Linked DNA regions of Homo sapiens. The protein of the gene in region 1 interacts with the protein of each later gene in a pairwise test. Each region holds a gene or a part of one and is shown on either strand. Other genes may lie near its edges. The genes, in order: PALLD, NCKIPSD and PDLIM3.

What was found.
Region 2: the proteins of PALLD (region 1) and NCKIPSD interact in binary tests that used the Homo sapiens proteins (3 or more experiments, as listed by UniProt).
Region 3: the proteins of PALLD (region 1) and PDLIM3 interact in a two-hybrid assay, tested with the Homo sapiens proteins (one large-scale study listed by BioGRID and IntAct).

Annotation. Positions count from the first base shown.
Region 1 is NC_000004.12:168,503,500-168,507,149, reverse strand, and holds part of PALLD (palladin), read right to left. Parts: intron 1-3,650. UniProt on the Homo sapiens protein: Cytoskeletal protein required for organization of normal actin cytoskeleton. Roles in establishing cell morphology, motility, cell adhesion and cell-extracellular matrix interactions in a variety of cell types.
Region 2 is NC_000003.12:48,675,829-48,679,478, forward strand, and holds part of NCKIPSD (NCK-interacting protein with SH3 domain), read right to left. Parts: intron 3,630-3,650; coding exon 3,549-3,629; intron 3,356-3,548; coding exon 3,227-3,355; intron 3,142-3,226; coding exon 3,049-3,141; intron 2,909-3,048; coding exon 2,736-2,908; intron 1-2,735. UniProt on the Homo sapiens protein: Has an important role in stress fiber formation induced by active diaphanous protein homolog 1 (DRF1). Induces microspike formation, in vivo. In vitro, stimulates N-WASP-induced ARP2/3 complex activation in the absence of CDC42.
Region 3 is NC_000004.12:185,532,641-185,536,996, forward strand, and holds the start of PDLIM3 (PDZ and LIM domain protein 3), read right to left. Parts: upstream 2,868-4,356; 5' UTR 2,795-2,867; coding exon 2,702-2,794; intron 1-2,701. UniProt on the Homo sapiens protein: May play a role in the organization of actin filament arrays within muscle cells.

The DNA.
Region 1 (3,650 bases):
TTTTGATTTGAGCCTTTTGCAGTTGAGGGACCTTTGGTAACTCTGGTGTTGATGTCTAGGAGATTTGAGATGCTGATCTAGAGCCCAGGAGAAGGGAGAACAGAGCTGGATTGGGGATTATTAGCCTATGGGTGGCACTTTAAGACATGGGAATGCATAAGGTCATCGAGGAAAAAAGAAGGAGAAGATAGAATCCTTCGAATAATCACAGGGAAGCAAGAAAAGCTAGATATCGTGGAAGCTGGGAAAGAAAATATCTCAGGAAGCAGTACATGTCCTTTTGATTTTTGATTTTAGCAACTTGGGAATATTTAGCACCATTGCAACAGCACTTTCGGTGTATGCAACAGAAATATAAGCCAGATTGCTACATGGAAGGAAAGGAAAGAAGGAAAGAAAGAAAATATTACAGGTGTGGTGGTTTGTTTTGAAAAGATCATAGAAAGAAGGAGAGACAGAAGGTAGTAGTTGAACAAAAGTATAGACTCTGGTGAGGTTTGTTCATTTTTAGGATAGAGCGCTGTAACATGTTTTATACAAACCAAATTAGGCAGTAAGAAGGGAGAAGCTGAAAATAAATGTAAAAAAGCGGGGATGATTTATAGGTCAGCTCTCAAAAGATGTAAGAAGAAATGAGTTATTATAGGACAAACGGAGTATGAGGTGTTCAGCTTCCAGTAGGAAGGGGGCAGTTCTTTCATTGTTAAAGGAGAGAAGTAACAAAGGGTGTATGTGTGTTGGGGCATGGGGGGCGGTAAGAGAGAAAGGGAGAGAGAGAGAAACATGAGATTCTCTGCAAAATTTGTAATAGAAAGAAAGGAGAGTTCCCAAACTGAGACTTCTGTGCATTGGAGGTTTATGAGGACAGAAGATGATTTGAAATAGCTGTTGTAGAAAAAGGGGGAAGGAAGTTTTGTAAGAAGGATTTATGGGTAGAGGTGAGGGCCTGGTTGAAGTTAGATGTGATGTATTTATAGTGTCATTAATCTGTGTGATTGTGCAATTCTCTCCACCAGAGCTCAGCCATCCAGGTGAAGGTACAGAGATAGATGATCCCAGTTTGACATGCAGGTAAAATGGGAGGGAAGTGGGCAAGGCCATTGAAAATATGGTCAAGGAATAGGTGGCCTTTGACATATATGCTGGGTTGGAATTCATGGGTAGGAGTTTGAATGTAGAGATTGTCTTTGTTTTTTTGAACCAATGTCAGAGTTGAGTAGTTGCAACAGAGACTATATGGCACATGAAGTCTAAAATATTTACCTGCACTTTTACAGGAAAAAATTGCCAACCCCTTCTATAGAACATTAGCTACCTAATGACTTCATATAACACATATAAAGGCAATTAATGATCACGATGATTGATAATGATAATGGCTAATAATGGACTGCTTACCCTGCGGTGGGCATTGTGCCCAGAGTCATCATGTAGATTATTTCATTTAAAACCCTCACAGCAGCCTCTGGTTTAGAAAGGAGGAAATGGAGGCAGAAAATCTGAGTGGGAGAACCAAGGTTTAAGCCCAGGGAATAACTCCAGAGCTCATGTTCTATGCACTTTACCATCTTACCATTGTAGTTTTCATAATTGAGAATCCTAAGCAATGTATCAAACTAACAAAACTGTGGATCAGAAATCAGAGTTCTGCTATTAATTCAATTGCTTTTTAGTTCCAAATGAACATAATATGATACATTTTAAAACTTCACAAGGAGCATTATATAACAAAGCTTAAAGCAAACTTCTGAATGATGAAAACATTTTCAATTCTTAATGTAGGGAGTGTTTGCTGGAGGCAGATTATCTCACCTGCTTATTAACTCATATTTTGGTTTTAAAGAGGCGCCATCTGACAGGATCCAGTAGTCAGGATTAGGTGTAGCTTTAAAACTGCTTGCACATTGAAAAAGAAAATAATAGTTCTATGGCATATCTGGTTCAGGCTTAATTTGCAAGCCAGTTATTGCCGCGGGAACATGCACGTGGTCTAGGGAAAATGCTCATTCAATGAGGATGAACAAGGGCGGTTTCCAAGCGGGCCAAGTTCACTGGAAAATTGTGCTTCAGAGATTTCCATGTCAGTCAGCACTCCAAAATGAAAAGGTCAAAATCAAAAGGAATGAAACACAATCACAAACATCTCCATCATTTGCCTGAGATTTCATGTTTTCTGTCAAACAGTGCTCTTGGTAATTCTATGCCGGTGTGATAGACACAGAAGATGAAATAGACTAAAAAGACCCACTAATACTGCTGTTAATGAGTGAAGAGGAAATGAGGTAAACACCAACGCCATTAAAGTGGTTCTACTTTAGTAAGTAGCATTGAAAGATTTTGAAATTTTGAAGAATAAAGGATTCTTTGGCATCTTTAAATTGTCCTGTCCCCTGCCTCCTCACTTTTCTCAGAAGGAATCTGAATTTCCTAGAAATTCTTCTGTCTTCTTCTTTTTCTCATCCTTGTCTTATCCATCATCTCCAGCTTTAGCAGTTTAGCTTAATTGTCATTTTCCCTAAAACGCTCATTAGCCACAGCCATTTTTTTTTTTTTTTTGAGTTGGAGTCTTGCTTTGTCGCCCAGGCTGGAGTGCAGTGGCATGATCTCAGTTCACTGCAAGATCCACCTGCCGGGTTCAAGAGATTCTCCTTCCTCAGTCTCCCGAGTAGCTGGGGCTACAGGTGCCTGCCACCACTCCCAGCTGATTTTTGTATTTTTAGTAGAGACAGGGTTTCACCATATTGGCCAGGCTGGTCTTGAACTCCTGACCTTGTGATCTGCCCACCTTAGCCTCCCAAAATGCTGGGATTACAGGTGTGAGCCACCATGCCTGGCCAACCACAACTGTTTTTTAATTTGCTTGAAGTTGCGTAGCATTATGTTCTTCACCATGGAGGAAATGACTCTTCCTTGGCCTCGCCCATCTTACAGTCATGCTTCCTTTCTTCTACTTCCCTTTCCTGGAATAGTAAGTTGAACATGAAATCAACGGAACAACTGCTTAGTTGTGCAAGAGAAGCTTCAAGGAGGACAAAGATGAGGCAGGCGTAGTTATTCTCCTTAAATGATCTTACAATCCAGTAGGAGGGATTAGACAAGAGTAAAAAATAACTCAGTTACAAGGAGGAGCGTGATAATTTCTATTAAAATAGTTTCAACAAATTGCAGTAAGGGATAAAAATGGTAAGAGAGATCATAGGTACAAATTGTGTCACGTCACTCTTTTGGTTTTTATTTTTTTCCTATGATGCTCCCCGGCTGATGAGAAAAGTTCCAAAGCACGATGTGCAGGTTAAACATACCCGTGGACAGCCTGAGCTGATGGAAATGCTCCAGCCTCACCCTCTGTCATCACCAACACACATGCACTCAGGCCTCCCTGGCCCACTCACCATTCCTCAAACAATTCAGATTCTTTCTGGTTTTCACACCTTTGCACTTGCTGCTCCTTTTGCTTAAAATGTGCTTCCTTTCTCTTTTTCTTTTTCTTTTTTTTTTTTTTTGAGATGGAGTCTCGCTCTGTTGCCCAGGCTGGAGTGCAGTGGCTCCATCTTGGCTCACTGCAACCTCCGCCTCCCAGGTTCACACCATTCTCTTGCCTCAGCCTCCTGAGTAGCTGGGACTACAGGCGCCCACCACCATGCCCGGCT
Region 2 (3,650 bases), on another chromosome or scaffold:
AACCACCACGCCCGGCCAGCCCTTATGACTTGACAGCTTGTTCTCACAGAGACCCCCAGTCCACTGACCTGATGTCTGCTTCCCTCAACATCCCTCATTTCTCTTTTTACCTTTAATTAGAGAAATAATACCAAAACCTCCTTTAGGCAGCACACCCTGCTAAGTCCCAGCCCTGGGAGTCATACTGAGGTGCCTGCACATCAAACACCAGCGTCTAAGCTATAGACAAATGCAGAGCCATGTGCAGGCCTGAATGTCATTCACCACCGCAAACCTCAAACGGACACACAGCACTGCCTGAGCCTCCCACTGCTTTTCTCTGCTGTGTCACTCTCCCTTAGAGTAGTAATAATGTCCACCTTCTCTGTCTTTGAAACCTACCTACCTTGTCAGCTGGCCTTGTGCTTCATAGAGAATACAGAAGTAATCTTGCAGAAACCCGTCTTTCCCCTCAGTACCCACATCTCACCTGTCCCTACCAGAATGAGCAGCCCTAGCTCCTGTCCATGTGGGCCTGGACCTGAACTCTCCCCTCCTGCCCCATCCACTTGACTCCTGTGGTGGCTCACCATCTCCAACACATCATCCATCTCTCTGTGCTTGCTGGATCATTCCCTCCGGCTCAGAACATGCACCATCATCCGTACCATTTTTGTTTTTGTTTTTTAAAGAGACAAGGTCTGGCTTTGTTGCCCAGGCTGGAGTGCAATGACACAATCATGGCTCAATGCAGCCTTGACCTCCTGGGCTCAAGTAATCTTCCCACTTCAGCCTCCAAAGTAGTTGGAATTACAGGTGCATACCACCATGCCCAGCTAATTTTATTTTCTACTGTGGTCCATCAGGTTATACAGAGGTCTCACTATGTTGCCCAGGCTGATCTTGAACTCATGGACTCAAGTGATCCTCCCACTTCGGCCTCCCAAAGTGCTGGGATTATAGGCGTGAGCCACTGCACCTGGCCAACATCCCCCATCTGTCACCCAAGCTGGAGTGCAGTGGTGTGATCTTGGCTCACAGCAACCTCCACCTCCCGGGTTCAAGCAATTCTCCTGCCTCAGCCTCCCAAGTAGGTGGGATTACAGGCTCCCACCACCATACCCAGCTAATTTTTGTATTTTTCGTATTTTGTATTTTTAGTAGAGACCACTTTGACCAGGCTGGTCTCGAATTCCTGACCTCAAGTGATCCACCCACCTCAGCCTCCCAAAGTGCTGGGATTACAAGCATGAGCCACCGCGCCTGGCCAACATCCCCCATCTTCAAAACACTCTCCCTGGCCAGGCACGGTGGCTCACACCTGTAATCCCAACACTTTGGGAGGCTGAGGCAGGTGGATTGCATGAGGTCAGGAGTTCAAGACCAGCCTGGCCAACATGGCGAAACCCTGTCTCTGCTAAAATATAAAAATTAGCTGGGTGTGGTAGTGGGTGACTGTAATCCCAGCAACTTGGGAGGCTGAGGCAGGAGAATCACTTGAAACCAGGAGGCGGAGGTTACAGTGAGCCACGATCGTGCCACTACACTCCAGCCTTGGCAACAGTGGGAGACAAACAAACAAACAAACAACAACAACAAAAAACCCCCAAAAAAACACTCTCCCTATCCCCATGTCATCTCTCTCCAGCAACCTCCCTTCCATTTTTCTCTTCCCCTTAATAGAAAATTCACAAGAGTTGTCTCCATTTACTGCTTCCAACCCTCCCCTCATTTCTACTCCCCAATAACTTCAAGCTCTCTCAAACTTTCATTCAGACTCTCCTCCTTGCACCCCACTGACACTGCTTGTCAGGCACCACTGACCTCTGTGTGGTGAATCCAATGGCCAACCCCAGTCTCGCTCAGGCTCCTAACGGTATAGAGATGGCTGATCGTCTTCCTCTAAACATGTGGCTTTGGGCTCCTGCTTTCTTGGTTCTCTTCCTGGGTTTCTCCCTAGTTGTTTCAGCTGTGCCCAGGGCTGCAGCCCGAACTTCCCGCTGACCTGCCTATCTATCTCATTTCTGAGGCAATCACATTGTCACAGGCTTCCCATCGTATCTCTGCATAGACCACTCCGAAATGTCTCTCTAGTCTCAACTCATTCCCCACTGCCTCCCTGATGCCCTCGGTACCTGGGTGTCTAGCAGATATCTCCTCATTCTTGACACATTCAAAACACGACTCTCTATTTTCCCCCAAGAAGTTCTCCCAGCCTCCCCAACTTCAAAAATCAGCACTTCATCCATCTAGCTGCTCAAGATAAATCAAGTGGCAAGCCCTGCCAGATCCACTTACTAAACACTCCACAGCTGGCCTCTTCTCGCCACTGCCACTGCCACGACCTATCCCATCCCCACCCCATCCATGCCACCTGGACCACTGAGGCTGCTTCCTCCCTGGCTGGCTTCCACTCTGCTGGCATGCAGTTGATTCCATGTGGGATGTTAATCACATCACATTCCCCGGTCCTGAGATCACAACCTCTTGCAGCAGCCTCCGAGGCTTTGTGTAAACTCCATCCTCCATGCCTCATCTCCCTCCACTCCCTCCTCTCCAGCCTCCTCCAGCCCCACCACCTCCAGATCACCTCATGGCTGGCTCCTTTGGGTCTTGGTGCACCTATCATGGCCTCCTACACTTACCTGGCTCCAGCAGTGGCCTTGCCCCCTCATCTCCACTCAATGTCATGCCCCCCACCATTTTGTTTCAGTTTCCACACAGTGACCCCCGCTGCTGCAGCCACCTCCAGGCACCTTGTCTCCTGGTGACAGGTCTGCGATGTGCCGCACAGTGATGTCAATGAGAGCCATCATGTCTGTGTGGTAGAAGATGGCAGCTGTGGCCGGGCTGCCAAACACGTCCTGCAGGAACTTGAGGACAGAGTGTGGTGGCTGTGGCTCATGTTTGAAGATGCGCACAGGGTCATCTAGGAGGCAGGGGTCATAGCGGTCAGGGTGGACCTTGTGGGGATCCCAGAGTCACCCCAGGGGGTTACGGGAGTCATTGCAGGGGTCATGGAGTCACAGGGCATGGAAGTGGTACCCGCGCAGATTCCCGGGCCCTCACCCCCTCTGTTCAGGAGCAACAACAGCTTCTCGGAGAAGATCTTGACATTGGCGTGTTTGCTCAGGGCAGCCATGATGACATTCTGGTCAGCAGCTAAGGAAGGACATGGGTATAGACAGGGTGCTGAGCCTGAGAGCCACCATGTGCTCAGCCACCGCCCAGCCAGGCCCCACCCCACCTGGCAGGTGCAGGTTGAGAGCCAGAAGCAGGTTCACGCAGAGGTCCGGCAGCTGCTCTGTGGTGTCCAAGGGCAGCCCATCCTCGACGATGTTCAGTAGGAACTGGGCGAAAGGCGTGCCCAGGTGCTCTGGGAGAGGGGCGCACAGAAGTCTGCAGCCCCATTCCCCTCCGACCCCCGCACCACCCACCCTTCCTGGCTTTCTGTGAGCCTTGGGGATAGCCTCTCCCTGCTAGGCTGTGTAGTCAGCAGGTCCCAGGCCCTCGGGCAATGGGCCCTGGCTTAGGACCTGTGATCAGCTGGTCGGTTACTGCATTCTTACCATAGTGTGCATAGGGCACTGCCTCTCCCATGGAGAAGACCATGGCCAGGATGAGGGCAGAGTAACAGAGTTTCTGGTGGTCTGGGGGGGACAAGGCAGGCA
Region 3 (4,356 bases), about 17 Mb from region 1:
AATGAAGTTAGCAACTCAAATTGGGATAGGAGATGGTGAAAAGTCATGAATGTTGTGCAAAGACACGCATTTCACTCTCTACAAACAAGTGATGCCGCTGAAGGATTTTTAAGAATGAGAAAGGAGCAATTTGGCATTTTCCAGAGACGGTAAGAATATGCTGTGTGAATTGGACGGGGGAGCCAAATGTCTAGGCGTGGAGCTAGGAAATCTTGAAGAGGGACAGTAGTAGAAAAAATGGAAAGTGGCAGATGTTGAAGACAGCATCAATAAGGCCAGTGATGAACAGGATGGCACAAAACAACTCTTTAGAAATATTGGAACAGGTGTCCATTTTCACATGTGGCCTTCAGAATGCAGGCTTTGGAGGCACACAGACCTAGCGTCAGAGCCTGTCCCACTGCTTGTGATCATCGGCGGGTTAATAAATCTTTTGAAGCCTCATTCTCCTCATTTGCAAAAGGGGATGTCACTACTGCTACTCTCCTAAAGATTATTGTGAGATTTCAGTGAGTTCGTGCACATAAAAGGTTCCCATCAATGCCTGGCAAGCAAGAGAGTACAATAACACACTTACAACCTCACACACTGCCTTTCAAAATGGTGTTAAAATGTTAAAAGCAGTACAACAATTCACCATTTAACAATACTGATAGTTATTTTTCTGTAATACTTTTCTGTAATACTTTTTATTCTTTTCCTTAACAAATTTCAATATTCTTATCATTTCAGTGAAAATATTCTGAATTAGGTGTTCACTAAAGCATAAAAGTTCTTATTGAATAAATAAATGTTCTTATTTATTCAATAAGAATCTACTATATACCTGGCTTTGGGGACACTTGGGATACAAAAATGATTTGGTTTTACCTGCTGTCCTAGAATTAATTAAAGAGAAAAGCCATAATCAAGTGAAATCATATTTGGTCATAAACTGTTATTGAACCAAATGTCAAAAATGAGTGATACAAATTAGTTATGAGTTAGGAATTCCAGATAGAATTGGTTTCCCTAATAATAACTGCCATTATATCAAATATATTTACCAATAGCTATTGTAGTCCAACTCTGGAATGTAAGTACTGCTTTAAAATAAACATTTATAATGTCAACAACTCAAAATTTCAAGCATATGATTAATTATATTGACATACGATTATACTATAATAGCAAAATATTTCTTTTATAAACACCTTAAAAGTTTTCGTGACAAAATTATTTTGGTTAGAATTTAATATAAATATGATTTATTCTGTGTTAGGATTCAAAAGCTTATTCAATTTAAATAAAAACCATACTCCAGAAACTAAAACATTTCTTAGTAGATATAACGGAAACTGTTTTTGTTGGTAAATCTATAATAGGAATTGCTTGGCCCAGGTCACTGAAGCATTTTCTGCTTACTTTACTTAGGAACGTTTTTGGGGGTATGTTGAACAGTTTTCATGTTTCATATAAAAACACGTCAGATGTGTTTATATGTTTTTGAAAAATGTAAAACAAGGCTTGAAACGTTCCATTGTATGCGTCTGTAGGATACACATTTTGACATATTTTTAAAAGGATGTTGGTTCCCAAATCTCATAGGCATATATAAATAAAACAGAATTTAAAAGGTATTACCTTGTTCAAAATCTGTATGAGCAGATCAATCAGATTATAACACATACAATTATAAAATATGGCATGAGAAGAATACAAGAAAATAAAGTATAATACTCTGCAACTAAAAGTATAATATTCTGGAAGTTTACGCCTTTAGGTATTAAATGTTTTATATGTGATAACTGAAATAATACATTAATTTTCTATGAAGAAAAACATTGTGTTAGAAAAAAACCAGCTAGACCAAATAATGCTTTAGAATTAATTCTACAAATTTACTGACAGGAGAGAAACCCTGAGGTTTTATTTTTACCTTGTTTTCTCATTAGACAGTAGAGAACACCAAGTAAAGCTTGACTTTGACATTAAAGCATTATTTTCCGTTTTAGGCTGAGTGGTTTACTTTGCATCAGGTAAACTAAACTGTCTGCCACGTTTTCTTTGTAGCTAGAGTTAGAAGTTGGTAATTCCTAAGCCAAGTTCTCAGCTTTGGAAAACGTGCTCAAAATGCCTGGAAACTGAGGAGTGAGCATTAGGAAGACTTCCCCTGTCTGGGCTGATAGGAGCGGCTCCAGTTTGGCCAACGCAGGTCGTGCCCCGCGAACAGCGCGCTGCTGAACTTTTCATCCGGACGAGAAAAACGCTCAGATGCGCGCCAGCTCCAGGGAATGCCGGGGGGTGCCAGTCCCTCGCCTCTCCCACCCGGGACCCATCATTTGTTACGGAAGGGCGATGGGGTGTGTTTTATTTCTGTTATCACATATAAAACATTTAAAACCTAAAGGGGAGGAGGCACTCGAGCCTGGCAGCCTCGCCTTCCCTGAGCCCAGTGGCTCTCCTCGGAAAGTCGCTGCGGACCCAGAGGATGGGACACCTTTAGAGCGGACTTTGTCAAATCTCTGAGCCGCTCCGCAGCCACTTGACGGAGTTGCCGCCGCCCCCGGAGCTGGGCGCCGAAGCCCGGGAGCCAGCAGCGCCCCGTCCGCCCGCCCTCGCGCGCTTTCTGGCCGCCCTCGGCCCCGGGGCATCCACTGCGTCCCCCCGGACGCCGCCGGAGTCCCCACCTCGCAGCAAAAGCAAGAATGCCGACACCTACCCTGGTGATGACCAAAGGCTGGTTGAAGTCTATGCCCCCTGAGAGCCTGAAGCCCCAGGGCGCAGGGCCCGGGAGGATCACCGTCTGGGGCATGCCGCCTTCCTCCCGCCCACCGGGCTCTAAGTGTCCCCGCGCAGGGCAGCCACTCCGCGCCGGGCGGCGTCCTGGCCCCGACCCGGGCGGGGGCGCTTTATCCCCGCTGGGGGTGACGTCACCGCCCCGCCGTCCTCCCCGCCCCCTCCCACCCCGGAGAGCTCCAACTTTGGAAGCGAGAGCCGCGCCAGCCCCGCGGGAGTGCGCAGCCCGGCCGGCTGGGGCAGCCTCCCGGGCCGCGGCGGGCGCGGGGGCTTCGGGTTACAGCGTCCGTCGCTCTCTTGAAGTCACACCTGTCTCCCTGTTTATCTTCTGCTTGGAGCGCAGCAGTGCACTTTGTTGGAAGCGAAAGCAGCCAGACCACAGCCTCCATGCTTTCAATTAAAACGAGCATCATCGATACAATAAGTTATTTAGCAGTTTCGAGTGCGTTAATATTTACTTACGACCTCTGCGGCTTTGGCCAAATTACTTAATGTCCTTTTAAATTTTTATTTTATTTATTTATTTTTCTTAGAGACCGGGTCTCCACTTTGTTGCCCAGGCTAGTCTTGAACTCCTGGGCTCAAACAATCTTCCCACCTCAGCCTCCCAAAGTGCAGGAGAGTCTGGCCGGGGTCCTGTGGTAGTCTCAGTGTGGACTCAAGTATTTCTGGTGTTACGCGTTGGGATGTTGTGATTCCCAAAGGGAGAGGGGAGAATGAGGGAAGAGAAATAAGAAATGCTTTAAACACTCAAGAATAAGGGTCTTGGACTTAATGCCCCATATGATAGGGTCGTATTGGTCCAGGAGGACAGAGCTGCAGCAGACTTTTAAGAGGGCAGTCTGTTTGGAAGCAGTTTTAAGACTGATGGAGGAAAGAGAAAGGAGATGCAGAAAGCAGTAAGCAGTAAGCAGTAAGCAAAGCGAACCAGCCTGGGCAAATGTAAATCACAAAGGTAGGATGGGCATTACTTTGTCCGCTGTGGTGGATTACATAAAAGTCCCAGGGGATAAGCACTTTCTAGCTCCACACATTTCCCAGTGCCCCATCTATGCTGGACCATCGAGGAGCTGAACATTGTGTGTCCTGCTGACTGCCTGTTTGGGCTGTGGCTGTATCACTGCAGAGCACATTTCTTCAGTCAGCTGCTGGCTCTGTCTGCGTGGTGCAGACATACACGTGCACACACACAGAGGTCCATTCAGAAAAAAAAAATCAGACAAGTCATTTGGTGTTGTGTAATTATAGTAATTGTTTTTACCTTACTTCACGAGCTGGCTTATATAAACAGCTGATTTTTTCTTTGCCTTTTTGCTGGTCATTTTGGCATCATTTAGATGTAGCCAATATCTATACAATATCCACATAATATCTGATGAGTTCTTTCTTTTTGTTTTTTTTTTTTTTTTTTGGAGACAGAGTCTTAATCTGTCACCCAGGCTTGATGAGTTCCTAAGGCTTTGCAGAGAGTGTGGAAAGCAGGGACATGAGATGGGCAGTTTTCCTACATCCTGCTCTTCACGGAGACCAGCAGGAAAGTGCTCAGAAGTGACTGTTAAGGTAGAGGTGAGACTAGCT